Linked DNA regions of Homo sapiens. The protein of the gene in region 4 interacts with the protein of the main gene of each other region in a pairwise test. Each region holds a gene or a part of one and is shown on either strand. Other genes may lie near its edges. The genes, in order: SLC35A1, UPK1B, MFSD11 and PIK3IP1.

Region 1 (8,094 bases), on a different chromosome or scaffold from region 4:
TTTTATGATGGCAAGGTTTAGAAAGGTCTTCCATTACAGCCAAAAAAAAGGAGAGGGGGAGGCAGGGCGGGTAAAATCAAGGCAGTGTTTTGTTGATCACTGATTACAGACTTTTTAGAACATGAGTATGCCTAACTGACACTATCTGACCACTCTGACAAAGAACATAACTAATTTCCCTATAAAATATATAATTTTTTTTAAATGTAAGTATAAATATATATAAGTACAAAAGAAAATGTGGTAGGATTGGCTTTTCCGTGACAACCAGGAACCTGTGAAAGTTTAGAGTAAAAGACAGGTGACCAATCATTCAAACCATTGATAATTTCTTAATCGGAGATGAGGCGATAATTTACTGAATAAAACTACATTTCCTACTAGTCTTAACCCTTTTTTCATCTTTTTTTTTTTTGAGACGGAGTTTCGCTTTTGTTGCCCAGGCTGGAGTGCAATGGCGCAATCTCGGCTCACCGCAACCTCTGCCTCCCAGGTCCAAGCAATTCTCCTTCCTCAGCCTCTCGAGTAGCCGGGAGGAGCATGCGCCACCGTGCCCAGCCAATTTTGTATTTTTAGTAGAGACAGGATTTCTCCACGTTGGTCAGGCTGGTCCCCAACCTCAGGTTATCACCCGCCTCAGCCTCCCAAAGTGCTGGGATTACAGACATGAGCCACCATGCCCGGCACCTTTTTTCATTTTAATCTTAAAAATCAGGATGCAAGAAACCAAATCATAACTTGTCCTAACTTGACAAATAAATATATTTATATGACATCAAGCTTTATTTTAGTTCACTCCTAACTAAAAAAGACCAGCTTTGCCTTCAAAAAAGGAGAAGGTAGGATAAAAACTTGTATCTAAACAGTTAACTGAAAGATTGCTAAGACATGCTAGTTGACCATCAGTAAGAACATTAAACAAAAGCATTTTCTACTGTTCCTATATATTTCTTATGAGCAATGGTATAAGGATTTTGTTGAACATAAAGATAGATCAGAATTACAGCTAAAAGTTCACCCAAATCAGGTAGAAAAACATCTAAGGGAAAGCCTATAAGTACCTGATACTGAAATGGTAAGTGGTTGGTAAGTAGTGTCAAACACTACTCTAAGCACTTCACCTGAAAACACCACTAGGCAATAGGTGATATTATTCCCATTTTACAGATGAAGAAAGTGTCACCCAGGGAATATAACTTCCCCAAGGCTGCACAGTTAAGAAATGGTACAGGCAAGATTTGCCACAGACTATACATGGTTTTCTAAAATTTCTACAACACTATTTCCATTTATATACAGGAGTCAATTTTAAAATGAAATGTAAATATAAGCCAGGTCTCTTTTACTTAATATATTTAACAGATATTCTTCATACATTGGTTTATATTATAATAATTGATCAGTAAAGAAAATTATTACACTATAAAAGCACCCTGAAATGTTAAGTCAATATCATTGCTTAAATAATTTAGAAGCCAAATTAATGCTGGGTGTGAGAGTTGGGAAAATTATATTAGGACTAACAAAGCAGTGGTACTGGAATGCCAGCTATATTAATGAGTTTTGTATTAATTACATATTGAATGAAACAAAGATACAAAAGACAAAATCTAGATTTTGATTGTTTTCAAAACCGTCTCACACCCAAATGCAAAGCAGTTGGAAAGTACAAGCTGAGGGAGGACTAAAAGATGTTTTCTACATTCTTCTAAATAATGAGCCAATATAGTTTAAACTGACTGCTGAAAATAATTTCCTAAAGTCTTTATATGTATTTCCTTGAGTACCTTCTCACATTCAGACACTCAAGTTGTCCTATATACAATACCTAAAAATACAGGGAGGCCTTGACTGCAAAAAAAGTCCCCTCACTTTCACATAGAACTAGCACCCCTCGTCTTAACCTCTAAGACCACCTAAACAACCAAAGTACTGCTTAGCCACATCCCACACAACTATGAACAGCTGTACTGGTGGAATAAACTGTAGTAACAAAGCTAGGAATTTCTGTAAACAGTATGACCAACTGCCACTTTTAAATAAGGGATTAAATGAATCAAGGAAATGGGAGGCTCTTCCATGTTAAAAACTCAACACAAACTAAGACATACTTATCTGTAATCCAAACAGCATTACTGAAGCAATGGTGGAAAGGACAATGGCCGCTGCTGCAGAAAAGCCTTTCATGATGTTGTCTGTGTACTTAACCACAACAGAAGTGTAGAGGCCACCAACACTTGCAAGAACTTGTATACAGAGAGAAATAAAATCTTATCACTCAAATAAATGAAACATTACATAATGGTGAGGCAATTTTCATCCCCAGAGATGCCATACTTTACCTAGGAAAAGGAAAATACTGTTTTCCTTAGAAGGAGCCATCTGAGAGTTTGTACTAAAATTGGTAGTTCCTATATAACACTGTTTTTCCAAAACAATGCCCAGAGGGCTATGTGGTCTATTAAATTTTACACATTTTTTGCTAATGTTAGATATTTTGGGGCATTGCTATCCCAAAGCAATTTTGCCTTCACAATCAAAACTAAGTCAACAAAATGAAAATTATATTCAAACTGGTATTTACAGTATCAAAGGATTAATTTCAAAATGTTATAACAGCTTAAAATGGACATCTAACTTAAAAAAAAAATAAAGGATCTACTAAGAACCTTTAATTCCTGGATACTTACAGATGACAAACCAGACATAATATGTGTAACCATAGAAAAATCCTTTTTCTTTAATTTCAGCTCCATCTGACAAGTAGACGCCAGCTAATGTCACAATAATCCCTGATAGATACATTTGAATGTTTCTCACCCAAAGAGAAGTATCTGAACTCTTTAAAACTTTTTCAAAATATACTCCTGAAAGAAAATTAGACATGCAAATATTAAAGATTACTATAAATTAACTTAAAATGTCTTTCATTTAGAACAATACCCTAGAGATATATAAAGTATATGATTTGGGGAACAAAACATACTTTACTTAAATGTGCATTTATTATGTAGGTTGTGTGACACATGACATACTGTACATTATAAATTTATGTTTTTACAGAGTATATAGAATAATAACTAATTGGGAAGTTTATAAGCTACATTTAACAGAAGGCTGTTAAATTAAGACAGTTTCTGCCTTTATTAGAGCAGTAAGACCACAAAAGCTCTCTGTACTACTTAATGCCAGTATGTCATTTGCTTTGGTCAGCTGAAAAACTACATTAAGAGTGAATTATCTTAATCACATCCCTGTAATATCTGCCTACTAATGAATACTCCTAATTCTGCAATATAATCTATAATCACCACTAGGAATCTTTTCAGAGTAACAACCAAAACTGAAGTAGAATTTGCTGTGTAAAGCCATTTTCCTTTAAAGCAGGGTTCCACAAGCCAAGTTCATACACAAGGTCAGAAGGATCATGAACTCCCCAACTGGATAATAAATTTTGTGTATATGTGCATTTTTCTGGAGTTGAAGGTCCATAGATTTTTTCAGATACTTCAAAGGAGTACATGATACCCCTCCCCAACAAAAGTCCCCTATCTCTGGATTTATGCTTAAAATGAATGCATATTTTACAAAGCCATTAAAGATTTTAGTTATAAATATCATGCTAGAGACTTAGGAACTGCCAATGAAGTACTTATCAACTAAAAAGTCTAACGAAAAACAAGATTATTTTTGATGAGTCTGTTGGAATGGGAACATAAAATAGCTATTCTTATTTTCACCTCTGATTTTACCTTCTGGGAGAAGCATTTATCCAGTGCTCAGTTACCGTAAACACAGAGAGATATTAAACCACCCTCCATTTCCTCAATTGTGTATTAAGAGAGTGAACTAATAAAATGTTGGACATAATCATTTAACTGTTCAAAATATTGCAAAAAATCAAATAGCATATTTTTTAGGTAACTCAATTTTTGTTCCCAATTTGTTGGTTTCTAGAACACAATGCTATCAGTAAGTATATTCCTGAATTTAAATTTTCCCCTCGTATAAAACATCTTATTTACAAGCAGTATTTTACTTCTGTATTCAGCCTGCTTTCCTAGTCAAAAATAGTCCTGACTTGAAATAGGTACAAATAAATAATAAAGATGTATAGCTATAACTAATATATTCTACTAAAAGCTTTAAGCAGAATATATTAAAAACTAAATCTCTGCTGGAACTATTTCTAAAACTTTTTTTATGTTACACTTAATATTCATACTTTCTTATCTTGATGCATTGGAGGAGTGCTTGTCCCTACACATACAACGCCAGACTTCCGTGGATTGTTGATGTTAGTGATTTTGTGTTGTCTTTCCTCCCTGTTTGGTTATTAGCTTTATGTATTATGTTTTCTAAGGTACTCTCGACCCACCTCATGATCCTACTCCATAGCTCCTAACCTGTTAAAGCAGAGAAAGAACTTGAGGTTATAGGGGAAAAAAAGATACTTAGCTGGTAACATTAACAACCTAAAGCAGCAGGATCTGACTTGATAGTGGCAGTTCCAGAAAAAAGGAAAGGGCTTTCTGAAGACTAATTTCCTCCATTTTCAGAAGTCTTTTTTCATTTACTTTTGGGTTTTTGGCCGGACTGAGATGGTCAAGGATAACAGAAGTAGTTAACTGCAAGTATGAATAGGGACTGAGTCTGAACTTAGTTGAACAATGCTATACATTTACTGGAAAAACAGCTGACATAAAACTAAATATAAGCAAGAAGATCAAGTTTAATGGGAATAAAACTGAGAAAGCAAGATAAACTAGACTGGTGTCTAAAGTTTGATGTTTTCGAAAAATATGACAAAAGAATAAAACAATGCTTTCATGATTTACCTGCAAATCCTGAGCACAATACAGCAATAGCTATAGCGCCAAACCCTAATAATGGATTTTGTTCCACCTGCAATATTAATTGTTAAAGTTATTTTTAGTGACTAATAAACAGAGTTCATCCAAGAGTCCAAACAAATAAATACAAAAACCTGTTACAGTCTTACTAAAAGTATATTCCACATCAGACACAGCTATTCTACAGAATAAGACAACTAAACAAAAAGACCATTCCAGAAATTAACCAGGGCACTTGGCTTAAGTGAAAAATGTGTCCCTCAAATCACAGCCATAGTATATGCTTAATATAATATGTGCCCACTGTTTCCTAATACCAATAAGCACTCTAGCATGAACTTTTGAACAGGCCAAGTCAGCATACTACTTAATTTTAATTTCTATTATCACTCTAATTTAAGAGCTTATAGCATCAATCCTGAAAATGATAACAATTTAACTTATTTATTCCTCATCACCTACAGGATACAGTGCTGCCTCTTAAGACTCCCCAATTTATTGAATTTTTAGTATACCTTCTGTGTACCAGATACATTGTCTATACACACTGCTGTGGTTTGAATGTCAACTTCAAAACACATGTTGAGATTTAATTGCCGTTCTAACAGTATTAAGAGGTGGGCATTTAAGAGATGATTAGGTCATGAAGGCTCTGTCCTCAAGAAGGGATTGATGCCATTACTGAGGGAATGAGTTAGTTATTGAGGGAGCAGGTTTCTGATAAAAAGGATGAGTTCAGCCCACTTCCCTCTGTCACATGGGATCGCTTCTGCCTTCTGCCATAGAATGAGCCTCACCAGATGCCAGCACCGTGTTCTGGACTTCCCAGCCTCCAGAACCATGGGCCAAATAAACTTCTGTTTTTTATGAGTTACCCACTCTGCGTATTCTGTTATAGCAGCAGAAAATGGACTAAGATACATACTAAATGAATAAAGAAGATTACAATACACAGCTCTGTTATGTATAGGCAAAATTGACAAGTATATATAACCAAAATAGTGTGAGACCAGTGCTCACAGATCCAAGTATATGGGTCCTAACCCTCTGTTTCACTTTATTTTCTCTTTCTTTTCTAAACTGTCAGGAGCTTTCATCAGTCTTTCCTGAAAGATAAATACTATCTCAATAGTATCACTGAAATTAGAGGGTTGAGATTCATGACTGTAATATGACAAGGAAGTATATACCTTGTTCAAAATAAATAAGCCTGATATAAGAAAAGTGCCACTTTATGGTACCTGAGAGAGCAAGCTTGGTCTAAATTGTTTGCATGAAGATAAAAGGAGAAACAGAAGACACTGTAGACCAGTGGTTCTCAAAGTATGGACCCTGGATCAGCAGCAGTGGCACCACTGGGGGTTTGTTAGAAATAAAAACTGTCAGGCTCTACCCCAGACCTACTGAACCATAAACTATGGGAATGGGCCTAGCAATCTGTTTCAACCAACCTTCCAGTTGATTCTGATGTACGCTAAAGTTTGAGAACCACTGCTATAGACTATACATTATTAACAAGTATACTTTCCTATAATACAAATTTCAAGACTGGCATAGATAGAATAAAATCATAGTGTGAGATACCACCTATCCCAACATCTGCTGGGAAGCTCCAACTGCTAAAAATAGAGTGCCTGATAAATTCTTGACTTAGTTTCCTGCCAGTTGAATGTCTCTACAGTTAGGAAAAATAGTGATGGAAACAGCTTATCTGGACTTGATTCTGACAAGAAACTGCTGGGTGATGAAGTAGATGTGATGGGAACTTTGGCAGAAAGCAACCATGTGATCTGAGCATGAGCCAAACACAGCACAGTTAAGAGACATGTGCTCCAGTCCTGAATAAATCAAAACTCAAAAATGTAAAACTTCAAGTTAGAATTCCATGGCTCGTGAGAAGAACATTCAAGAGAGATTAAGAGTTACTGAAGAAGGAGGTTCTGGTGAAAAGTAAAAAAAAGAATACATAAGGAAATCAACATATCTAAATAAGGGCATCTTCACTGAATTCTGATTTTACAAGAACAAAGCCGAAGTACAGATCACCAAGAGGAATCTAACCAGGAATTTAAGAATAGTATCAAGAAATCGAAAACTCAGAATAAGTGGAGGCTTGCAAAAAATCCTGTAAGGCATTAAAGAAAGCTTTTTTTTTTTTTTTTCTTTTTGAGACAGGATCTTGTGGTATAATCATGGTTCACTACAGCCTCAACCTCCTCGGCTCAAGTGATCCTCCCACCTCAGCTTCCCAAGTAGCTGGGACTACAGGCATGCATCACCACATCTAGCTAAGTTTTAAATTTTTTTGTAGAGACATGGTCTCACTATATTACCCAGGCTGGTCTTGAACTCCTGGGCTCAAGCAATTCTCCCCGCCTAGACTACCTAGCTAAATAAATTTAAAAGACTATCAAGAAAAGTAGGTGAGTTAGTGTATATAAAGCATTTAGATAATGCTAGTATTTAGTGCATTATAAATGATTGCAGCTGTTATTGTTACATTGATTACCAGCAAAATGTTAGAACAGATTTAGAGATGACTTGTACTTAAAAAGCTTAATGGTCATCAGTGGAAAATAGTGTGACTTCACCAAGTGTGAAACATACCAGATTTCCTTACTGAAAGGACTCCTAATGTTAAGTGATGAGGGGAATTCCATAGAGATAATGTTTGGCAAAAAATGTGACAGACTTGCATATTATTGTTATTATTATTATTATTGAAACAGAGTCTCGCACTATCACTCGAGCTGGTGTGCAGTGGCGCGATCTCGGCTCACTGCAACCTCTGCCTCCCAGGTTCAAGCGATTCTCCTGCCTCAGCCTCCTGAGTAGCTAGGATTACAGGCGCCTGCCACCACGCCCAGCTAAGTTTTTGTATTTTTAGTACAGACGGGGTTTCACCATGTTAGCCAGGCTGGTCTCGAACTCCTCACCTGGTGATCTGCGACCAGCCACATAATATTTTTATAGACAACACAGAACTGTAGTGAGGATAAAGGTACAATCCGTAAGTGTGTGAATGCTCATACAGAAAAATGGTAGTTAATTGAACAAAATCAAGCTAGGCCATCAACCAATACCAACTTGCCAGGCATATAGATAAGCCACGTTAGAAACAGATCCTCCAGCCGTAGTCAAGTCTTCAGTTGACTGCAGCCCTAGCCAGTATCTTGACTGCAACCTCAAGCCAGAACCAGCTAGCTAAGGCACCCTCAAATTCCTGACCCATAAAAACTAT
Region 2 (8,094 bases), on a different chromosome or scaffold from region 4:
AAGTGTAGCAGGAGCAAAAAGTAAAAGTGAGCGTAGAAGTTCCCACCGTTTAACTGTAAGGCAGCGTTTGCCAGCATCCAGCAGGAAGCCACACCCTGTGTCTGCAGTTTCTACCTCCTCCACTTTAATTCCCATGCTTTAGGCTTTTCTGTTGGAAAACCCATTTTGTTAGACTCATATATGACATTGGTAAAAATGAAAGTGAACAGATTTTAAAGCTGTCTTTACTTATAAGACCAGACAAATGTTGAGTTATAAGAATTTCCTTCAGGACCACAAATGGAAACATAGTGCAGATGAGAAATATTTTGACAGTAAACAGAAATCCCTGTAAATCACCCCATTCTATTGGCTGGCTTGCTTCTCTCCAGTTTGAAATGGTCTCAAGCTGAGACCATTCAGGGCAAAGACTGAGTAAATATATAACAGGCACCTTGTCTGTCCCCAGAAGTCCCCACGCTTTTTTGTTTGTTTTGAGACAGAGTCTGGCTCTTTCATCCAGGATGGAGTGCAATAGGTACGATCTCAGCTCACTGCAACCTCTGTCTCCCGGTCAAGTGATTCTCCTGCGTTAGCCTGCCAAGTAGCTAGGATTACAGGCACCTGCCATCACGCCTGGCTAATTTTTGTATTTTTGTAGAGACGGGGTTTCACCATGTTGGCCAGGCTGGTCTTGAACTCCTGACCTCAGGTGATCTGCCCACCTCGGCCTCCCAAAGTGCTGGGATTACAGGCATGAGCCCCCACGCCCAGCCCACACTTTTAATTAATGGAGAATTGAGGCTACTAAACACATACTTCAAGGTATGAAAGGAAATTTGAACCACTGTTAAGAATTATTCTGGAGAATAAAAGGATCTGAAGGTGGCATCAAGAGAATCACCCATCTCCATATATGGGAGCTACTCTAGAAAGAAATGCAAAAGGTATATTTCAGTAATCTTTTCCCAACTTCTCTGTTCCCCTGACAATACTGAGATCAACAGAAGCATTGGAAGGTTTCTTTTAGATAATAGTGAGAGATACAGGCAGATTGCTAGCCAAATACAGCTCTGGGTTACTGTGATAACACAGGTTCCTTCGAATGTATTTATTTTCCCAAATTAAAAATAAGCAGGGATGGAAGTAGTTATTATGCATTTTTCAAATTCTCCTTTCAACAGTCTATATAAATGTTGCAGAATGCTAGACTAGGATGAAAAGTAGGAGTCATGAGAACTGCAGAAGCCTGAGATCCTAAAGGAAGTCCGTACCATCTGACTTGGCAATGTAAGACACACACGTTAGTGTGGGGCACAAACGTGGAATATTAGGAGAGAGCTGGTTCCAGCACCAAATCCAGAGTCACTCGGGGAAGGAGGTATGGTGGCAACACTTTATGCTTAATATTCAATTCTGCTCCAGTAGAACATGGTACCCAGGAGAACCCAAAACTGGAATAGAAAAAAACAAGGAAAAATAAACAAGGGATTGTTTTAGAAACATCTCATTCTTGGAAAAAGTGGATGTTAGGTTCATTCAGGCTTAGGTGACAACAGATTTTTTTGTTTGTTTGTTTTTATTTCTTCTAAAAAACCAAAACAAAAACAGGATACATGTACAGAACGTGCAGGTTTGTTACACAGATGTACGTGTGCCATGGTGGTTTGCTGCACCTGTTGACCCATCCTCTAAGTTCCCTTCTCCTCACTCCTCACCCCTCAGCAGGCCCTGGTGTGTGTTGTTCCCCTCCCTTTGTCCATGTGTTCTCATTGTTCAACTCCCACTTATGAGAGGGAACATGCAGTGTCTGGCTTCCTGTTCCTGTGTTAGTTTGCTGAGGATGATGACTTCCAGCTTCATCCATGTCCCTGCAAAAACATGATCTCATTCCTTTTTATGGCTGCATAGTATTCCATAGTGTGCATGGACCACATTTTCTTTATCCAGTCTATTGCTGATGGGCATTTGGGTTGGTTCCATGTCTTTGTTAGATATCAGATTTTTTTTTTTTTTTTTTTTTTTTTTTTGAGACGGAGTTTCGCTCTGTCGCCCAGGCTGGAGTGCAGTGGCGCGATCTTGACTCACTGCAAGCTCCGCCTCCCGGGTTCACGCCATTCTCCTGCCTCAGCCTCCTGTGTAGCTGGGACTACAGGCACGCGCCACCATGCCCGGCTAATTTTTGTATTTTTAGTAGAGACGGGGTTTCACCGTGTTAGCCAGGATGGTCTCGATCTCCTGACCTCGTGATTTGCCCGTCTCGGCCTCCCAAAGTGCTGGGATTACAGGCGTGAGCCACCACGCCTGGCCTAGATATCAGATTTTTAAGAGTAATCTCGTTATAAGCAACATCACTGGGCCAGATGTGACACCAAATCCATCCTGCTCCAAAGCATCACTTATTACCTGCCACTCAGAAGCAACTTCTGTGTTCCCCACGTTCTGATCCCAGTTCTCATCCTAGATTCCTTGTCTTCTGGGGTTGCCCTTCTCGTCTGTGCTAAACTCTTTTTGCCATCAAGGCCACTTATCCTCCAATGCCTTCCTGTTTCTAGTATGTACCATTTCGGGGTAAGCATTCCTTGCTTCTAGTATTAAACTTCTCCCAGGGAACTTCTATTTTTTCCTAAAATGCTTGTGCCCTGGAATGGCTGCCTCTGAAGAATGCCACAGAACTCAAGATATCTGACTTAGGCAAGGGCTGAGTTTTATTTTAGTTTATTTGGGCTCTGTTTTAGATCTGGTACTTACTCCTGGGTAACTTTAGCCAAGTCACTTAAATTTCCTGAGCTTCAGTTTCTACATTTATAAAATAAATATAACATCTCTACCTACCCCAAGCTAGAGCAGTGAATGAGATAATGAAATAATAACAGGGTCTAATGTTTATTAGAATACCTTATTATGCATCACTCACTATTCTAAGTGTTACCCATATAACTGAAGTTAATGCTTCCAAAACCCTATGGAGAAACGGAGGCACAGAGAAGTAACTTACCCAAGGTCATAGAACTAGTAGGTGGTGGAGGTGGGATTCAAACCCAAGCAGTCAGCTTCAGAGCTTATCTAGTTAATCACTAAGAAAAAGCCCCTTGCAAGCAACAGTGAAATGGGCATGCTTAAGAGCTCTTATTAAGCACAATTCTTGAGAGCCCCACTGAATTTCTCTGCTCCTTGTAAGACAGGACACTGGCTACCTGCTTAGCTACTGTTGTGGGGATTTAATATTAAAAATATTTGACATGGTACCTTGTTTATAGCAGGCCCTCAATACATTTAATCATTTAATTCCCTTCCCTTCCCTTCCCTCTTTTGAATTTCAAGAGGGAATTAACTAGATCTAGAGTTTATTTGATACTTGTGGAAAATCAAGGGTTACAACTGGTTTGGAGTTCTAAGATACTCAAAGCCTTTAAACATTATCCCACAGTTCCTGCTAATATGGCACAAATAGAAACTTCACTGTTACCTTTCATTCATTCAACAAATGCTTGAGCCCTTACTACATGCTATGCTTGGCACTGGGGGTACAAAGAACAGCTAGTTCTCAGCTTTTTGCAGTCAAATACATCATCATGGAGAAGTTCCATCATAGAGGTGTGCTCAGGATGTTGTGAGAGCTCCTAACAGGTTGGGTTGAGGGATCATAAAAGACCCCTTGAAGGAGTTGATTTCCCTCTCCTTCCTGCCTCACTCAGTTTATCACCCCCTAAGCTAGCATTTCTTAAAGCATAGTGATATGGTTTAGCTGTGTCCCCACTCAAATCTCATCTTGAATTGTAGCTCCTATAATCCCCACATGTCATGGGAGGGACTCGATGGGAAATAATTGAATCATGCGACCGGGTTTTTTTCTGTGCCGTTCTCGTGATAGGGAATAAGTCTCATGAGATCTGATGGCTTTATAAAGGGCAGTTCCCCTGCACACGCTGTGTTGCCTGCCGTCATGTAAGACATGCCTTTGCTCCTACTTCGCCTTCTGCCATGATTGTGAGTCCTCCCCAGCCATGTGGAACTGTAAGTCTATTAAACCTCTTTTGCTTTATAAATTATGCAGTTTTGGGTATTTCTTCATAGCACTATGAAAATGGACTAATACACATAGTAAACACCTGAGGGACAGTTCAGAAGTCCATTATGTAAGGCTATCTGAATAACAATGAGAATTTATTTGCCTTTTTCACTGTTTTCATATTTGCACTGATGGTGTAAATGCAGTGGGAAGTAAAACTCCTGGAGTATTAGCAAGAATCAAGGCAGAGTCACTAAACTTTGTTAGTGATCATTGTGTCTTCACTGCTACGCACTTGCAGTAAAAAAAAAAAATTTAAAAAGCCAGTTTCACTTGAGATTGTCCTCAATGAAGCAGTAAGAACTACTAATTTTATTACATTTTGGCCTTTGAGTACACATCTTTTTAAATATTCTGCATGACAGAAAGGAAGTATTCATTCATAAAACAGTCTGTTGCATAGTGTAATATGGTTGTCTTAAAAGCACTTGCATGATTAAAAGGAAACACCACTTTTACTTTAAAAAATGATGAACAGACACGCTATGGTTGTTTGGACTTGGACATGTGGCAGATATTTTCTTGAAAATTTACAAAGTGAGTCTGTCACTTCAAGGAAAACAACTGACAATATTCATTGCCAATGATAAATTTGAACTTTCAAGCAAAAATCAGAACCTTGGAAAACTTGTAGTTGTCACCGTGAACTTGATAGCATTCCATTGCTTAAGGTATTTTCCATGTGGCAATATCAATGCCACATGTGATTTTCTGGATATTGCATACATAAATCAGTTAACATTTGGAAGATCTGCATAACACAATGAACTAATATTTTTTCCAAATAAGCAATCTATGATGTTATAGAATTATAAATGGCTGAAAGATATATGCAAAGTGCAAGACAAACCAATGTAATATATTTTAACATAACAGAGTATGAAAAGCTCATTAACAGAATTTCAGATTCCAAATTGCAACTGATCTTTAAGAAGCTACTACTTGTGGGCTGGGTGCAGTGCTCATGGCCATAATCCCAGTGTTTTGGGAGGCCAGGGTGGGAGGATTGCTTGAGGCCAGGAGTTCAAGACCAACCTAGGCAACAAAGTAAGATCCTGTCTCTACAAGAAATAAAAAAATTAGCCAGGCACAATGGTGTGCACCTGTGGTCCCAGCTACTGGGTGAATATTATTAAAGCACTATTTTTTTAATTACATGTCTATATGAAGGATGCATTTTCTCCAGATCATTCAACCTAGGCAACATATTACAACAGATTGAATGAAGGTGCAAATATGAGAATCTAACTGTCTTCTATTTAGCTAGTCATTGAAGAGATTTGCAAAAAAGTCACTATTATAAAATAGTTGTTTTTCCACAAAAATGTGTTGTGATAACTTTTAATGGGCTTATTATTTTAAAATAAATATTTTAAATTTTTCTATGTTAATTTCCAATGGGGTAAATGCCAATAGATATAGGCCACATAGAGAAAAGCTTTCTGGAGTCCTCAATAATTTTTGAGAGTGTAAAGGGGTTCTGAAATCAAAAGTTTGTGACTGCTTCTCTAAGGCAATGGTTGTCAACCCTGACAGCAGATCATCTGGGGGAAATAAAAGTGCCTTGGCTCAACCCCCAGGTCAACTAAATCGAAGTCTCAGAGGTTGGGATCCAAGCAATTTTTAAAAAAAGTTTCCCCATGGCGTTTTAATGTGTAGCCAGGGCTGAGAACCACCGCTCCAACCTCTTGCTGCATATGCGTCAGATAAAGTGGGCAGTAGGAAAGGATGAATCTGCCAGAGGCAGCTCTTTAGAAGGATCTGGGCATATTAGTATCAGGCAGGGGCCATCTAGATAGGTGACAGTCTTTGATATGTGGATGAAATGAATTAATGAGATCTGGAGACCAGGAGGAGCAGTTCACTAAGAACTCTGGCAAGGGAAAGAGGCTCTCCAGCCCTCTAAAGGCAGCTGCCCATCAGCCGGAAGAAGGAGCTGGTTGGCAGGGCACAGCCTTTCCCTGGTAGGGGAAGTTAACTCCTTGCCTCTCAAGAGAACCCACTGTCCTTCTTCCGGTGCCAGAAGTTTCCTGACTAGCCTTCAGGCCTGAGGTTTTGTTTCTAGACTTTCTAGTGTGGTTGAGGTAACCAGTGGCACTCTCAAGGTCTCTCCGTATGATCATCCTCTCAGATAAAATATGTGCTGGGAAATACTCACAGTCCAGCAGAGAATGGCAAATCCAAACCAGGCAACCCCCCAGGCGTGTCGGTTCATTGGACCAGAGATCAGTTCATAGCAGCCCTGAAGGAGTGGGCAATTCCACATTAGTGTGAGAAGAACCAGAAAGCAGAGAAGAGATTGATGGGAAAGCAGGTTCCTATTGGAATCAATGCTACTCAAAATTCTGATTTCACATATCCAGGCTATTTCCACATCTCTGAGGACAGCCAGCTACTAATAGTGCTTTACTAAGGGAACATAAACAATACTGTTGAACAATGATTCCACAACACATTTATTTGTGTCTTTATCACTTAATCTCACTAAAAAGTACTGCTATTTTAGCATAACCCTCTTTCTATACTGAATATGTGGACAATAAATTCAAAAATCTTAATTCAATTAGAATTTTTCCCTCCCCAAAGGCTTCGTTGGTGATTTATTTGGAGGCAGTTACTTTTTGATTTGTTTGTTTTTGAATAAAAATGCTTCTGTCCATGAAAACCAGAGGTCCCCTGTTGCCATTTTTAATAATCATTAAAGGAACTCCTGCATTATGCTCCCTGAATTCTCATTTGATGTTATATTTCAACATATCTTTACTGGATTCTAGTGAGACCTTGAAGGGTCACAGTGAGCATGCAAAGGAATAATTTTTTTATTCACCAAATCATCCATTCATGCATGCCACAATCCAGTAAGTATTTATACATGGCGCACTCTATCCTAGTCACTGTGCAAAGTTCTGGAGTGATACACGCATGTAAGGCTAGAGCTGCCATCTGAGCAGCCTCTACCAAAGCTCTGGGAACCAAAGGGAATGCCTAGGAAATGCAATAACCAGGGCTGGTTCCATGGACCATGCGGCTCTGCCTCTCACCCCATCTTCCACTACCAGAGGAGGTTTCTCTATAAAGCGAATGAGCTTAAGCTTCAGGGCCCCTTACTTGCAAGACCCTTTCAAGGCCCTGTGCCTAATTTTGTATGCATATTTTTATTGTTTTTCCTAAGAAGGATCCTTCCCTATAATTTGTGTGTGAGGGTGGGGGTGGGGGACTCCAGCCACAAAAAATCTAGCTCCATCCTTGTCATCTACTCATCCTTCACTCATTCTGACTTTGTCATACTGATCTCCTTTATGCTCCTTCAAAAAGCTGGGCCTGCTCCCACTTAAGGGCCTTTGCACTCACAACTCCTTTCTTGTAGAACTTTCCTCCCCAATCTTCCGGTGTCTCATTTTCTCACTTAATTCAAACCTCTGCAAATATCATCTCAACAAAGCCTTTCCTGACAGTGACAGAGAAAAAGACCCTTTCTCCATCCTACTCTATATACTCACCCTGCCTTATTTCTGCTCATGGCCTATTTGGGCCTGGAATTTTATCATGTATTTGTTTGGTAACATGTTTATTTTCTGTCTCCCATGCTAGAATGCAAGCTCCATGAGGGCAGGGATTTTATGTTGTTCACTGTTGAATTTCTAGAACCTAGAACAAGTGCTTGGCACATAGTAGACACGTAATAAACATTTACAGAATGAATGGAACATTAATGTTTACAATAGTATAATTTGCAACACACTTGATGGTTCACAAAACACTCCCATATCTGCTACTCCTTGGTCCTCCCAACAATCCTGGGAGGTGGTCGTTCATCTAATAATATATATATAAGGGCCCACTTATGCCAGGTGCCAAGTACTGGCTGGGCATTTAGCTGTGGCAAACAGAAATGGGCCTTGCCTTCATGAAGCTCACAGACAGAAGCCCCATTTTTTTCACCATCATTTAGTGCCTTTTCGTGATGCTAGTCAATTTAGTGGTACTTTACTTGATCTTCCTTCATTTTATTATAACATTTTTGAGGTATAGTGATCACAATT
Region 3 (8,094 bases), on a different chromosome or scaffold from region 4:
AGCTACTCAGGAGGCTAAGGCAGGAGAATTGCTTGAACCCGGGAGGCGGAGGTTGCAGCGAGTCAAGATTGCGCTACTGCACTCCAGCCTGAGTGACAGAGAGAGACTCTATCAAAAAAATAAAAATAAATAAATAAAAATTAAAACCACAATACAAGTAACCAAGGAAAACAAGGCAATACACAAAGGGAAGAGCCCTATGTCAAACACAATCACAATCTGAAGAGGTTACCTGAACAAACTTGAAGATGGCAAATGCTGGGGCGCTGTCTTCAGAATACAGAAAGCCCAAGATACTAAGCAGCTGGGTATTAAAGCAGCTGTCTCCAAGGCCCAACAGAAAACTGCAGAGAATGGCAACTTCTTTGCTGAAGAAAATAAAAATCAATTTAGTATGAGCAATATCTGCTAGAGCCATTTAAAATATACAAGCAACCCACCCACAAAAGAATTCTACCTGCAAGTTGTAAACACTATGAAACAAAAATAAAGACAAAGCTGGTGCGGTGGCTCACACCTGGAATCCCAGCACTTTGGGAGGCTGAGGTGGGCAGATCACTTGAAGACAGGAGTTTGAGACCAGCCTGGCCAACATGGCAAAACCCCATCTCTACTAAAAATATAAAAATTAGCTGGGCATAGTGGCGCGTGCCTGTAATCCCAGCTACTCGGGAGGCTGAGACACGAGAATCACTTGAACCCCGGAGGTGGAGGTTGCAGTGAGCGGAGATCACGCCACTTGCATTCTAGGCTGGCAGACAGAGTGAGACTCTGTCTCAAAATAAATAAATAAATAAATAAAAATAAAACATAAAGACTAGAATTTACAAAGTAAGAATTTTTGCTCAAATGCACACACCTTTACATTCTAACAAACTCTGGTCTCAACCATTTGTGAAGAAAATGCAGGTTGAGTATCCCTTATCAAGACCAGAAGTGTTTCAAATTTTCTTTTCAGATTTTGGAACATCTGCATTACACTGACCAGTTAGGTATTTTTAATCTGAAAATCTGTAACCTGAAATGTTCTAATAACACTTCCCTTTGAGCATCATGTTGGCCCTTGAAAAGTTTCAGATTTTCAGATGCGATATACTCAGTTTGTATAGTTTTTTGGGCTGGGCTCCCCTTGGATTTGTGGAGCTGGACATAAATGTCTGCGTTTATAATGAACTTGAGAGTTGAGTGCACTAAACCGATATCCTCAAACGTTATATAAACTGCTCTGGAAGGACTGAATGGCCTCCCCGGTTGCCAGGTTCTCCCTCGCTCCTCTTTGTTCTTCCTCCAGGCCCTAATGTCTGGATATTTCACTGCTTAAGAAGCAGAGATAAAAAATTCAAATCAGATACTTACGTGCTCCTTCAAGGATCAAGAAAAAGATTTAGTGGGGGAAAAGGTTAAAACCAACTATTACAAAAATAACTTAGGATTCTCTAAGGATTCCTATTTAAACTCAGTCTGACTCCATGAACACTTGACAGATGACCTTAGAGAGACACCAGGCTCTCTGAAGAGGATTAACTGCTCCACTTTCAGTATCTAGCCATCCGTTACCTCCCACCCGTACTCAAGCGACTAGAGAAATGACAGCCACTATACCTGGATTTGATGTAAGCACTGCTGTCAGTTCCTTTAACAGGAGCAATCGGGGCATCTCCAGGCATGTTGAGAAATATTAGATAAAAAGCTATGAAGTGCACCAGGATGCCCAACAGCACAACTGGATTTCTACCAAAACGATTGTTCTTGCTCAGCAGGCCGAAGAGGCTTCCACCTATAAGTCAAGATGGCAGAAACGTCACTAATGTTGCCGAAACATCACATACCCAGGCCTGAGTTACCACCAAGGAGCCAAGGAATAAACATTCTCACTTGTTAAATTTCTTCAAAAAACCCAACACCTCAGCACTTGCAGACAATGATAATGATGACCAAGCATCAACTATTAGAACAAAAAAGTAAGGTATCAAAATGACTTGCATTTCTATCCAGGAACATTCTTGTATTTCTTCTCTGTGAATTATTGTACCCCACAAGCTATCCCCTTTGACCTGTAGCTTATAACAGAAATAAAATAAGGACACAACTTGTCATTATGACCACGTTTTTGTTGCAATCATAGCCAAACAAGCCAAGGTATCACACTGAAAGGCAGTCACTATGGATTCTGAGAATTATGTGTGAGCTCCGAAGGGGAGTCAGAGAGGCCTAGGAAGAGTCAGCAGCCAGAACAGCTAGGATATCTCAAAAGCTGAGAGGAGAATCCTCAAGAGTGAGAAGAGGAGAACTCTGTAACTGAAAGGAAGAAGACCTTTATAATTTTTAAGTGATTTCTACCCCAGAAATCGATACCAGCAAACCTATATATCAAAAGTGAAGGATGGCTGGGTGCAGGGTCTCATGCCTGTAATCCCAGCACTTTGGGAGGCCAAGGTGGGAGAATTGCTTGAGGCCAGGAGTTCCAAACCAGCCTCAGCAACATAGCAAGACGCTGTCTTTTTTAAAAAAAGAAAGAAAAAATTGTATATATATTTTTTAAAAAGTGGGCCAGGTACAGTGGCTTACACCTGTAATCCCAGCCCTTTGGGAGGCCAAGGCGGGCAGATCACCCGAGGTCAGGAGTTCGAGACCAGCCTGGCCAACATGGTGAAACCCTGTCTCTAGTAAAAATACAAAAATTAGCCAGGTGTGGTGGCACATGCCTGTAGTCCCAGCTACTTAAGAGGCAGAGGCAGGAGAATCACTTGAACCCAGGGGGCAGATGTTGCAGTGAACCAAGATCATGTCATTGCACTCCAGCACGGGTGACAGAGCAAGACTCTGTCTCAAAAAAATAAAAAAATAATTTAAAAAAATTTAGAAAGTTGCTGGGCATGGTGGCTCACGCCTGTAATCCCAGCACTTTGGGAGGTCAAGGTGGGCAGATCACGAGGTCAAGAGATCAAGACCATCCTGACCAACATGGTGAAACCCTGTCTCTACTAAAAATACAAAAATTAGCTGGGCGTGGTGGCGTGCGCCTGTAGTCCCAGCTACTCAGGAGGCTGAAGCAGGAGAATCGCTTGAACCCAGGAGGTGGAGGTTGCAATGAGCCAAGATTGCGCCACTGCACTCCGCCTGGCAACTGAGCGAGACTCCGTCTGGAAAAAAAAAATTTAAAAAGTGAAGGTTAACAGTAAAAACAAAACAAAACAAAAAAACCCTGCCTAGAAAATGGGCAAAAGATATGCACATACACGTCACCAAAGAAGATATAAAGAGGGTAAATACACACATGAAAAGATGCTCAACATCATTACCCATTAAAGACAAAGTAAAACCACAATGAAACATGACTACACATCTATCACAATCGCTAACATCAAAAACAGTGATAACACCAAGTGCTGGCAAGGATTCAGAAAAACGGAATCACTCACACATTGCTGGTACAGCCACTCTGGAAAATATCTGGCAGTTCCTCTCAAGAGTAGGCAGCAGAGGGAGAAAGAACCCAGGCGGAGGCCAGCAGCCCCCATGGATTGAAGAGACGGGGATGTGACTCTAGGGATATCAGGGTGACCAGAGTTCACAGACAACGGTATCAGAAAGGAAAGCTACACAGAAAAACAATTCCAGAGAGCTGCAGACAGTCCCCCTGAGTCTTCAGCTGAGGACTGATCAGTACATAAAGTGAGCAAATTAGCAGAAGTCTGGGAAAGAACCAGCCAAGAGGATTAGTGGTATTAGGGCCCCGCCCTCAGCTGGGTATAGTGTCTGGTCCCACCAGCCACTTAAAAGCTTATGATTCACAGGAACTGGGTGGAGCACACAGAAGGGTCTTCCCTTAGAAGCAGGAAATAATTAGCCCTAGACTGAGTAATGCTCCAGTCCTGCCCAACAAATCTTAAAAGGTATGCTGTTTTCAATTAAATGAACTACATCTAAGAACAAAGCTCAAAAATACTGACAGGAGGGCCAGGTGCAGTGGCTCATGCCTGTAATTCCAGCACTTTGGGAGGCCGAGGTGGGTGGATCAAGAGGTCAGGAGATTGAGACCAGCCTGGCCAACATGGTGAAACCCCATCTCTACTAAAAATACAAAAATTAGCCAGGCGTGGTAGCGGTTGCCTGTAGTCCCAGCTACTTGGGAGGCTGAGGCAGAAGAATTGCTTGAATCCCAGCAGCGAAGGTTGCAGTGAGCCAAGATCGAGCCACTGCACCCCAGCCTGGGCAACAGAGCAAGACTCTGTCCTTAAAAAAAAAAAAAAAAAAAAGTTACTAAGGTAGAGCGTTAACAATAGATGAATCCTGTTAAAGGATATTCAGATGTTCATTGTACTATTTTTATTTTTGCAATTTCTTTTTTTGTTTTGGTTTTTTGGTTTTTTTGAGACAGAATCTTGCTCTGTGGCCCAGGCTGGAGTGCAGTGGTGTGATCTGGATTCACTGCAACCTCCCACTTCAGCCTCCCAAGTAGCTGGGACGACAGGCATACGCCACTACACCTGGCTAATTTTTTTGTACTTTTTTTGTAGAGATGGGGTTTTGCCATGTTGCCCAGGCTGGTCTCAAACTCCTGAACTCAAGCGATCTGCCCACCTCAGCTCCCCAAAGTGCTAGAATTATAGGCGTGAGCACTGTGCCTGGCCTATTTTCGCAATTTCTTATCAATTTGAAATTATTTTTTTCAAAAAAGCAGGTTGCCTACAGAAAGTGAGTTTCTTCCCAGGTAGTCTACAGGCAGACACTAAACAAGCACTTACCAGAGAAGACAACCCTGCACTGACTCACCATGGCTAAGCTTCGCCCGCCATTTACATACCCATAACTCCCAACATCAACCTCCAGCCCACGAGTCCCTCCTGAGCATCAGCCTGCATTTCCCACTGGACACTTCTCTACTTGGGTGCCTCTCTGGTACTTAGAGGTGTTCAAAATCCCATTCAGCAGATTTCCTCAAACCCCATCTCCTACAGCATTCTCTCTGCCCAGGTTACTCTGATCAACCTGGTCATCATTCTAGACATCTCTCCTCACACCACCACGCAACTGGTTACTAAGTTCTGCTGAAACCATGTTCTCATTATTCATTCAACACATTTAACTCATTTATTGGATGCCCAATATAGACCTTGTCCTGCTCCAGGTGTTGGCAATAAGGCAGGGGCCAAAAAGCAAAAACAAACAAACCCTCCAAAGTCCGCTTTACCCATGGTGCTTACCACTGCCTGACATACAAAGATTTCTGTTTTTATTGTCTGTATTCTTCCTCAAGAATATAAGCTCTATATGGGCAGGTATTTTTGTCTATTTTGTTGACATGACAGATTACAATAAACCTTTGTTGAAGTTCCTCATATCTAACACAATATTCAATATACTGCAAGTGCTGAACAAATCTTTGTTGAACAAAGAATAACTCGTGGAGCATAATAAAAATACATATTTGGTCTTTGCTGCTAGTTCTTGGCACAGAAATCCTAAAAGGCCTGGAATTTCCTCAGTGATACGAGGGACATTAGTTATTCAGAAAGAGCCACTTTCAACCATACTGAAGTTTACGCTAAGGGGGCAACCCTTGGGGAGAGAGGGGTTGGCCTAGGATAGAGCTTCAGGATGAGGCTGGTTCCCAGAAAGACCAAGCCCTGAGGGCTAGAACTTCCAGGCCCCTTTCACTCCCACTTCAGGGAGGGAAGGCTGGAGATTAAATCAATCACCAATGGCCAATGATTGTTTTTTTGTTGTTGTTAGAGACAGGGTCTCCTTATGTTGTCCAGGCTGATCTCGAACTCCTGGGCTCAAGTGATCCTCCCACCTCGGCCTCCCAAAGTGAATGAGCCACTGCACCCGGCCATGTGGCCAATGATTTAATCAAGCATGCCTATGTAACAGGATCTCCATAAATCCCCCTAAACAGGGTTGGAGGAGCTTCTGGAGTGGTGAGCCCAAAATCCATGGAGACAGAGGCTCCTGCACTTAGGGACCCTTTCAGACCCCACCCTTTGCACCTCCTCATCAGGCTGCTCATCTGTATCCTTTATAATAAACTCTAATAGTCAGGAGAGCATTTTCCTGAGTTCTGTGAGTTGCTCTAGCAAATTATCAAACATGAAGGGGGAAGAGGGCTATGGGAACCTCCAAATTTGTACCCAAGTCAGAGAGGTGTGCCTGAGAGGCCTATGGACCCAGACTGTCTGTCTGTAGGACTGAACCCTTAAACCTGTGGAATCTGACACTAACTTTGGAGAGTTAAGTGTTAGAACAGGATTGAGCTGTTGGACACCCAGTTGGTGACAGGGAATCAGAGAACCAGAGTCAGGAATTCCAAGACTTTCTAAATATTTTAGGAGGAAAAGTCGGGAGACATTGTATGTTTTCTTACACAGGGTTTCCATCTGTGAATTATTTTGCAAATGTTTTATAATTTAGTTATATTAGAATAGCAATAATAGGCCGGGCATGGTGGCTCACACCTGTAATCCCAGCACTTTGGGAGGCCGAGGTGGGCGGATCATGAGGTCAGGAGATCGAGACCATCCTGGCTAATGCGGTGAAACCCCGTCTCTACTAAAAATACAAAAAAATTAGCCGGGCATAGTGGCGGGCGCCTGTAGTCCCAGCTACTCGGGAGGCTGAGGCAGAAGAATGGCGTGAACCCGGGAGGCGGAGCTTGCAGTGAGCTGAGATCGCACCACTGCACTCCAACTCTAGCCTCGGCGACAGAGCGAGACTCTGTCTGGAAAAAAAAAAAAAAAAAGAAAAAGAATAGCAATAATAGAAAAATAAAAACACACGTTTGGGTAAAAATAAGTAGAAAAAACAGAAATTCAAGGACAAAGGTGAAGCACACTTAAAATTTCTATTTTACCTATAATAAACTGATATTTTTAATGCAAACGCTTTTTTTTAAAACCAACCTAAAATTTCTCCAATGCCGATGAAAATGCCAGAAAGTCCAATAAGGCTTTTCTCTTCTGCTCCAAATTTATTTGTAGCACCAATACAGGTTCCATATACACCAGAGAAGAAAGTTAATTCCAGACCTTTAGTTAAAGAAAAAAAACAGATGTCATTTATATATTCACATTTTTGTTTATCTTCCCATCTAGTAGTATCTGACGAAAGAATACTTGCGTAGTAAAACACATAAAACTCACAGAGACTGAAATATTAATCCCCAAGCAGAGCATAATGTGATGTAACTGATGAAATGGAATTAGCTTCATGCTATGGACTAAATGTTTGTGTCCTCCCCAGATTCACATATTGAAACTCAAATTCCCCAAAACATGATGGTATTTGGAGATGGGGCCTTTTGGAGGCAATTAGGCCATGAGGGTGGAGCCCTCTCGATGTGATTAGTGCCCTTATAAATAGAGACAACAAAAAGCTTGCTTCCTGTCTGCTCTCTGCCATGGGAGGACACAGCAAGAAGGCAGCTGTCTACAACCAGGAACAGCCCACACCACAAGCTGCGCATGGTGGCATCCTGCTCTCAGACTTCCCAGCCTCCAGAACTGTGAGAAATAAGTGTCTGTTGTTTAAGCCACACAGTCTATGGAAATTTGTTATAGCAGCTAAAATTAAGATACCACAAGACGGCATCTGCCATATATTTCAGGTAAAAGTATACAACTCAAATGAACAGATATCCTTATGTTAAAACCTATCACTCTCCATGCAGGCGGAGATGGGCAGAGGTGATAATTAACATAACTTTGTAACAGTGAAGACTAACATGCTCATTAACCTTGTTAGTAGCTTTCCAAAGAAACAGGAACATTCTTTTTTTTTTTTTTTTTTGAGAGAGAGTCTTGCTCTGTTGCCCAGGCTGGAGTGCAGTGGCGCTATCTCAACTCACTGCAACCTCTGCCTCCCAGGTTCAAGCAATTCTCCTTGCCTCAGCCTCCCAAGTAGCTGGGATTACAGGCATGCACCACCACACCCGGGTAATTTATGTATTTTTAGTAGAGACGGGGTTTCACCATTTTGGCCAGGCTGGTCTCGAACTCCTGACCCCAGGTGATCCACCCACCTCGGCCTCCCAAAGTGCTGGGATTACAGACATGAGCCACTGTGCCCAGCCCCTATTCAATTATATTCTTACTG
Region 4 (8,094 bases):
ATTGGGCAGTGGAAGGGTTCTGGAAAGGAAGCTCTATGGCTAGGAGCTGCCAAGGCCTCTTGAGTGTGACATCACAGGTTAGAGGCCCTGCTGAGCTGCTAGCACAGTGCAGTGGAGAAATGTTGCGCTCCGTCAGGAAGCTGGGCTCTTGCCATGCCAGTAGCTTGCTTACGACCTTGGGCAAGTCACTTTTTCCTCTCTGGGGTCCTGTGTCCAAAAGGCTTAATGAGCCCTTTCTAATGGTTCTTTGATTGCTTTATGAGTTAGGGGCTGTGACCCTAGCCCCAGTGCCCTACAGGAAGGTGCTGACCTGGACGCCCGCAGGACCACCTGCTAAATCAGGCCCACTTGGGGAGCAAGCCCTGAAGTGCTTTATTACCTTGCCTCTGAGCTTAGTTTCCAGGTTAGCCTCTTAGAAGCAGCTCACAAGGCCCCACAGTATAATTCCCATAGGTTAGCTAACTACTCTCTTACCTGTGCAAAATGAAGACAGGTCACTATCCATCCCTGAAGAGAAACTGGGGCATCCCAGGTCTGCCTCTGCTCCTGTGGCCAAAGGCGGAGCAGATCCTTCTCTATCCTCTTCCTAAGTGGAATGCTCAGTGCAATTCTTCCTTTCCTTATGAAACAGGAAGAGTCCCTGGGCCCAGGCCTGGCCCACGGTTGTCAAGGCACATCATTGCCAGCAAGCTGAAGCATACCAGCAGCCACAACCTAGATCTCATTCCCAACCCAAAGTTCTGACTTCTGTACAAACTCGTTTCCAGTTCTCAGAGGTCAGTAGGGAGTTCCATCCCAAATATTTTAAAAACTAAATATATTTTTTCAATGCCATCCCTTGACCTGCTTTACCTTAACCATGAATAACAGTGTATGCCACTCAAGCCCACAGTGGAGACTGAGGCCATCTTAGTAAAGCACAGAGGAGCCTGGGGGAGCTCCCCGTCTATCCCTGGTTCAGTTCCAGGGGTGCAGGCAATGTTTGGAAGCCCTTAGCAGCAGCATCACTGTGGGAGCTGCCACTGTCTCCATCCACAGACAAAATCTGCTCCAAGGGATGGACAAGGAGCACTGTTAGGACCCTACCCAGCCTTACCCTCAGCCCACAGGGCCACCTGCTTCTGTCACTCTTACTAGGATTCGCCAAAAAAGCGGGGGAGTGGTAGGGTTTTAACCAGAACACAAAGTGGTAGTTCCTCCTAGCTGTAGGAGGGTGGGCTGTCCTGCACCAGTGTCTGCATGGGCTCCTGCCCACTGGGGGGGCTCAGGCCCCAGGAGTCCCGGCCTGGCCCATAAGGGGGGTGGTGCCCTCCTGAGGGTCAACTGGAGTCTGGCTGGTGTGGACCACGACAGTCTTCTCATCCACAATCTCACAGGTGGGGTTGGTGAAGGCAGACAAGGGCAGAGTGATTCGCTGCATCTCCCTCTCACATACTTTCTGATCATGCTGTTCTTTCAAATCCTTCCCCCTGGCAGGAAAAAAACAAACAAACATTCAGGCTATGCCTCCTGCATAGCTTTGCTCATTAGATAGCATCCCTGAGGCTCAGCAAGAGCAGCAGCTTGCCATTGTCACAACAAATCAGTGGCTGAGCCAGGACCCAAACTCAGGTCCAGGATTCTAGGATATCCATTCTGCAAGACGGCGTTAAACTCAACAAGAAGCTCCTGCACCTCTGGTCTTAGGTTCTCCATCTGTAAAATAGGGTGACAGCAGTATGGACTTCATACAGCTTCACCGGGGCTCAATGAAAATAAAGTAAAGGACAGAGACTTTTTTTTTTTTTTTATGGTTGAGACAGGGTCTCAACATGTTGCCTAGGCTGGTCTCAAACTACTGGGCTCAAGCGATCCTCCCACCCCCCAAAGTACTGGGATTACAGGCGTGAGCCACTGCACCTGGCCAGATAGAGACTCTTAAAGCAAGACACAGTTTTGTTCTTTCAGCCCCAGAGACCCAGAGAACTATCTGAACTTCGGACCTAACCCATAAAGTTGTCCAGAAAACTGACCTGATCATCCTGCTGTGAGACAGCCTCCCAGAGATGCTTATTACTTTTAATAAGCATCTACTAAATGTCAGCTACAGGCTTTTTTTTTTGGAGATGGAGTTTCGTGCTTTTTGCCCAGGCTGGAGTACAATGGCACAATCTCGGCTCACTGCAACCTCTGCCTCTCAGGTTCAAGCGATTCTCCTGCCTCAGCCTCCCAAGTAGCCAGGATTACAGGCATGCGCCACCACGCCCAGAGTATTTTGTATTTTTAGTAGAGATGGGGTTTCTCCATGGTGGTCAGGCTGGTCTCGAACTCCCGATCTCAGGTGATCCACCCGCCTCAGCATCCCAAAGTGCTGGGATTACAGGCGTGAGCCACCACACCCAGCCTAATCCCTGTTTTATAGATGAAGAAACTGAGGCTTTTGAGTTTAACTTCCGCGCCTTGCTTTCCTCAGCAACCTCCTTTACCTGTGGCCAGCTGAGCTGCTGCTAATGGCCAGGCTGCATCATATACAAGTCTTTAGGGGAAAAAAATCAATTTGTATTAATGAGGCAGAGCAGGGCTGGAAGAGCAGTCAAGGGTAAAGAAAGCAGATGCTGGCACTAGTCTGGATTAGTCTCATCCATTTGGAAGCCTGGAAGCACACTCAATCCCATGTGCCTGCTGTTAATGGTGCCTGTGAGTCCTAGAGATGCAGTGGCTGCTCCCAGCTCCCTTGGGTGACCTTTGAGAGGCCACTAGGCCTGCTACACTGACCATCAGGCAGCCTAGCCCCTTCTCACTGCTTGGGGGTAGGGGGTGGTTAGCCTGGGTGTTGTGTGGCAGCCAAGAAAGAACAAAAGGCTTGTTCACTGACTTAGTTCCTCTCCTAAGGGAGTGGAGTGGTGTTGACTTACAGTTTTTCCCTCCCCTTTTTATCAGAAAATAAGACCTCCCTCTGAAGCTAGTGCAGACAGTACACTTAGCTCCTCAGTCACAGACTGGCCATTTGAACCTCGTGGCCTAGACTACCAGGACAAAGACCCGGCCAGGCTGAGCTCCCACCCACCCCCATTTACAGCCCTCCCTCCCTAAGAGGAAGCCTGGTGCCTGCCCACCCATCCCAGCCAGGGAAAAGCTCCATCCCATTAGGCAAGCCTCATGGCCTTTGGCAGAGCTCAAGGCTTACAGTACCTACCCTGACTGCTTGCTCCAAGGCCAGGGTGGGACTGGGAGCTGAGCTGGCCAGAGAGAGCAGGTGTAGAGGAAGCTGCTGCCTACCTCCAACTTCCTCTCCCAGAGTATGGAAGCACCACAGACCTCATTCAGACTACACAGGTCGTCTTCAATTATTACTCTGAGCCGCTGCTATTTTCCCAGTCAGAGGCAGTGCTGTGCCACACTGCTGCTCAGGAAAAGTTCCCAAGGCAGCTACAGGTAATAATCACAAGAGCAGCCAACATTTATTTCCTGCTTTCTTAATAAGTAAGGCCCTACTGTATGCTGCCTCCAACTTCCTCTCCCAGGCTATAGAACACCAATTGTATGCCTAAACTATACTGTCCAATTTCATCCTCACAACCTATGTGGTATCTATTTTGATCTGTTTCATAGATAGGAAGGCAGATGCAGAGAAGTTACACTATTTGTTCAAGCAAATGGCAGAGCTGGGATTTGAACCCAGTCTTAGCACCGGCAATATTGTCTTTTTAGGAAATAGAGTTGGGAGTATCACCATATCTAACCCCCTTACAGTACAGATGAAGAAATTGAGGTCCAGAGAAGGTAAATAACTTGTCCAGTGTCACATCCAGAATAGGTGAAAGTTCCAGAACTAGATCTTGTTTCTTCTGACTTTAAACCCAGCCTTTTTTTAAATTTCTATTTTTCCTACTTTCCTTTGCAATTCAAAGCAAATTTACATGAGGCTACTTGGCCTCACTGGACTTGCTGGAGATACTAATACTCCTCAGACATACATTACTAGCTGTGTAGCCTGGCCATTGTACTTAACTCTGCTAGGTCTCAGCTCCTCACTGTAAAATCTAACAGTGCTCCTAGTGTGGTTGTGAGGCTTAGTCAAGGTAATCAGGAGGCTGGGTGCAGTGGCTCATGCCTATAATCCCAACACTTTGGGAGGCCGAGGCGGGTGGATTGCCTGAGGTTAGAAGTTCAAGACCAGCCTGGCCAACATGGTGAAACCCCGTCTCTACTAAAAATACAAAAATTAGCAGGACATGGTGGCGGGTGCCTCTAATCCCAGCTACTCGGGAGGCTGAGGCAGGAGAATCACTTGAACCCAGGAGGCGGCGGTTGCAGTGAGCCGACACAGCGAGACTCTGTCTCAAAAAAAAAAAAATTAAGAAAAAAAGATAATCAGGGAAGAGCATACAGTAGGGCCTTACTTATTAAGAAAGCATGAAATAAATGTTGGCTGCTATTGTGATTATTACCTGATTGGTGTGCTATTGTTTCTGTTTACATTTAATACTTATAATCTTAGATGGGTAGATGTGGAGGGAGGATATATCCCCATTTAACAGACAAGATACCAAGGCTCAGAGGGCACCTGAACCCACACTCAACCTACAGCTCTTTTCAGGACACTCTGCTCTCTGACTTTAGGAAGAGATGAAGGCTGCAAGCTTGTTTTTAAGCCCACATGCGGTTTCCTGTTGTACAGTCTGTTCTCAGAGCAGTTCTGCTGAAGAAAGGGGTGATCTGGTCGTTAGTGACGGGGAGTCTGATGACTGGGTGCCTTGCCCTGAGTTTACAGGAAAATAAATTTTAGGCCTCAGGGCAGTCTCGTGACAGCCTAGAGGAACAAATCTAGAAGAAAAAAGACTTCCACTGGACACCAGAACTGAGCTCAGAATTAAGAATGTTTAGTCAGTTCAAGCACCTGGAAGGCCTGGAAACTGTCACAGGATTGCAGGACAGCCAAATGCTGTTGGGTGGCTGAGGAAAAAGGAGATAGTTCAAGGACTAAACTCAGCCAATGTGGCTTAGGTCTGCTTATGAATTGTAAGGCCAGGGCCACTATGTCATTAACTCTGAAATGAACAAGCAGGTGTCCCTGGACCTGCATGTCAAGCATCCCATTGTGGGAAACAACCTCAGACTGGGCGTCAGGATGTCCTCTCAAGTCAATACTTTCCCTCTCTGGACCTCTGCTTCCTGCATCATAAGAAATCAGAGAGTACTAGTCCATTACCCACTTTTTTTTTTTTTTTTTTTTTTTTGAGACAGCATCTCACTCTGTCACCCAGGCTGGAGTGCAGTGGCACAATCATGGCTCACCATAGCGACTTCCCAGGCTCAGGTGATCCTCCCATCTCAGCCTCCTTAGTAACTAGGACTACAGGCGCCCACCACCATGCCTGGCTAATTTTTGTATTTTTTTGTAGAGACAGGGTTTTGCCATGTTGCCCATGCTGGTCTCGAACTCTTGGGCTCAAGCGATCCACCCACCTCTGCCTCCCAAAGTGCTAGGATTACAGGTGTGAGCCACTACGCCTGGTCCATTACCTACATTTTTTTTTTTTTTTTTTTGAGACGGAGTATGGCTCTGTCGCCCAGGCTGGAGTGCAGTGGCACAATCTCGGCTCACTGCAACCTCAGCCTCCCAGGTTCAAGCGATTCTCCTGCCTCAGCCTCCCAAGTAGCCGGGATTACAAGTGCCCGCCACCACGCCTGGCTAATTTTTTGTATTTTTAGTAGAGACAGGATTTCACTATGTTGGCCAGGCTGGTCTCGAACTCCTGACCTCATGATCTGCCCGCCTCGGCCTCCCAAAGTGCTAGGATTACAGGTGTGAGCCACCACGCCCAGCCACACATTTTATAGAAAAGAAAAACAGCCATCATTTACTGACCACCTACTATGTGCCACACCCTGAGCTAAGTAGTCAAAAGCCATAGCTCCACACCATGATGTGGAGTAGGAAATTGAAGCAATTTGCCCAGGGTCACAGAGATAGCTAGTTAAAGGACTTCTCTCCACCAAATGCTAGGTGTGTAACCTCAGGTAACGTATATAATCCCCTCTTGCCTCAGTTTCCTCATCTGTAAATTGGAGATGACAGCATTTACCTCATAAGGGTGATTATGAGTTAAAGCATGTGCTTCAAGCAGTGTCTGGCATACGGTACATGTTTGCTACTGCTGTTATTATTATACCCAAACTTCCCCTTTTTCATCTGTAATGAGGAGGTTGACTACAAGGCCTTTAAAGATGCCCTGCTGGGTGATCCACTGAGGCTGTGGGCTCAGACATGGCCCTCATCACTGGAAAATGCAGGCTGCATGCCAGGCATGGTGGTTCATGCCTATACACTTTGGGAGGCTGAGGTAGGAGGACTGCTTGAGCCCAGGAGTTTGAGACTAGCCTGGGCAACACAGTGAGACCCTGTCTCTATAAAAAAATTAAAAATCAGCCAGGCATGGTGGGACATGCCTGTAGTCCCAGCTACTCAGTGGGGGTGGGTGGGGGTAATTACTTGCGCCCTGGGAGGTTGAGGCTGCAGTGAGCCGTGATCGCACCACTGCACTCAAGCCTAGGCAATAGAGCGAGACCCTGAAAAAAAAAAATCAAAGAAAGGAAGGAAAGAAAGGGGAAGGAAGGAAGGGAGGGAGGGAGGGAGGAAAGGAAGGAAAAATGCAGGCTACTGTGTCACTTTCCTCACAGGAAGTTTTCTCAGACCACAGAGGAGAATATTACAGACACCCAGGGCTAGAAGTCAAATCCCCCGATTTTGCCCAAGAATGGCAAATAATTTTCCACAATCAGCCAGTGCTGTAAAGATGAATGCCAGTCTGGCTTACCATCATGCACCAGTCACTGACGGACATCTCGTGGGACCTTTCAAAATAAGCATTCTTCTCCTGCTGTCCCAGCCACAGGTCATGTCCTTGAGTTTCACAAGTAGCCTCTTTGGCTTTCTCACACGTGGTGAAGAGTGGCAAACAGACTTTCTGTTCTCCAACTCACTTTTTTCTTCCCTAGCAGAGGAGATCCCACTGCTTATAGCTCAGGAAATTTAAGCCTCAACTGCAACAGTGGCTGGAAACCTTTTCTAGTAGCAGAATTTTATAACTCACAGAAAGAATTTGGTCTTAAGGTCCCTGCAATCAGTGTCAAGCCTGATTTCTGCAGTGCCACTCACTTCAATGCCAGGCATGTGGGATCAGACAGCAGGGAATTTGCTATCAAAAGAGCTGGGTCTGAATCCAGGTTCTGCCACTCCTAGGCTATGTGACTTTGAGCAAGTCTCTGACAGAGGCTTCTTCATTTGTAAAATGCGGAACAAGAACATCCCTCACAAGGCTTTTAAGTGAGGTGTAAAGGCACCAAAGGAAAGGGTTTGTCCAAGGTCAGCAGATAAAGACTAGGACCAAGTCTCTACATCTTGAGCTGATTTTCAACATCTTGCTTCCTTTTGGGTAAGAAAGCCACAAAGTTTGACTTTGTGTACCTTCCTCCCCTCCTCCTAAGAGGGCCCAGAAGAGAAGCTACTGACCTCTTGTAGGAGTAGCCCAAGATGATGCCAGCTCCGATGGCAATGATGATCACCATCATGGTAATGCCCAGCACGTAGCCTGCCAAGGATAGGACACAAGGTCCCATTAGCCACACCCTAGACAATCAGCAAATGACATCTCTTGATGAATCCCAACGAGGGCAGGGGTGGGGGACCGTCATACCCAGAGTTCCCAGGTCCTTTTTCTCCTTGGAGTTCATCCGCACCCGCTGGCTGATCCCAATCACTGGCTGCACAGCTGCCGCCTCACTCCGAGCGGGCAGGGCGTTGGCAGGAGCGAACACCTGCACCTCATCTGCACCTGGCCCTTCAGACGCTTCCTGGATTTCTGTCGTGAAGGCTGGCAGGGCCTGGGAGGTGGTCTCTGGAGATGAGGTGGGAAACAGCTCTCATCAGGGACTGCCCTGAGTGAATTCCACAGCTGAACCTGGCCTGAGTGTTAGGGTAGATGAAGGTGGGTCACCTAAGAATTTCCCCCCACACACAACCCAAAGTCAAATTCTGCCCCAGAGGTAAGATCAGGCCTGAGAGGGCTGAACCATCTCAGGGACAAGGCAAATGAGAGAGGAAGGCCGTAG

The links.
Region 1: the proteins of PIK3IP1 (region 4) and SLC35A1 interact in binary tests that used the Homo sapiens proteins (3 or more experiments, as listed by UniProt).
Region 2: the proteins of PIK3IP1 (region 4) and UPK1B interact in binary tests that used the Homo sapiens proteins (3 or more experiments, as listed by UniProt).
Region 3: the proteins of PIK3IP1 (region 4) and MFSD11 interact in binary tests that used the Homo sapiens proteins (3 or more experiments, as listed by UniProt).

The regions. Positions count from the first base shown.
Region 1 is NC_000006.12:87,503,193-87,511,286, reverse strand, and holds part of SLC35A1 (CMP-sialic acid transporter), read right to left. Parts: intron 4,906-8,094; coding exon 4,839-4,905; intron 2,868-4,838; coding exon 2,691-2,867; intron 2,247-2,690; coding exon 2,112-2,246; intron 1-2,111. UniProt on the Homo sapiens protein: Transports CMP-sialic acid from the cytosol into the Golgi apparatus, functioning as an antiporter that exchanges CMP-sialic acid for CMP. Binds both CMP-sialic acid and free CMP, but has higher affinity for free CMP.
Region 2 is NC_000003.12:119,197,256-119,205,349, reverse strand, and holds the end of UPK1B (uroplakin-1b), read right to left. Parts: intron 6,294-8,094; coding exon 6,210-6,293; intron 1,434-6,209; coding exon 1,383-1,433; 3' UTR 207-1,382; downstream 1-206. UniProt on the Homo sapiens protein: Component of the asymmetric unit membrane (AUM); a highly specialized biomembrane elaborated by terminally differentiated urothelial cells.
Region 3 is NC_000017.11:76,768,680-76,776,773, reverse strand, and holds part of MFSD11 (UNC93-like protein MFSD11), read right to left. Parts: intron 7,029-8,094; coding exon 6,903-7,028; intron 1,778-6,902; coding exon 1,603-1,777; intron 369-1,602; coding exon 233-368; intron 1-232.
Region 4 is NC_000022.11:31,281,820-31,289,913, forward strand, and holds part of PIK3IP1 (phosphoinositide-3-kinase-interacting protein 1 isoform 1 precursor), read right to left. Parts: intron 7,881-8,094; coding exon 7,680-7,880; intron 7,575-7,679; coding exon 7,496-7,574; intron 1,470-7,495; coding exon 1,265-1,469; 3' UTR 1-1,264. UniProt on the Homo sapiens protein: Negative regulator of hepatic phosphatidylinositol 3-kinase (PI3K) activity.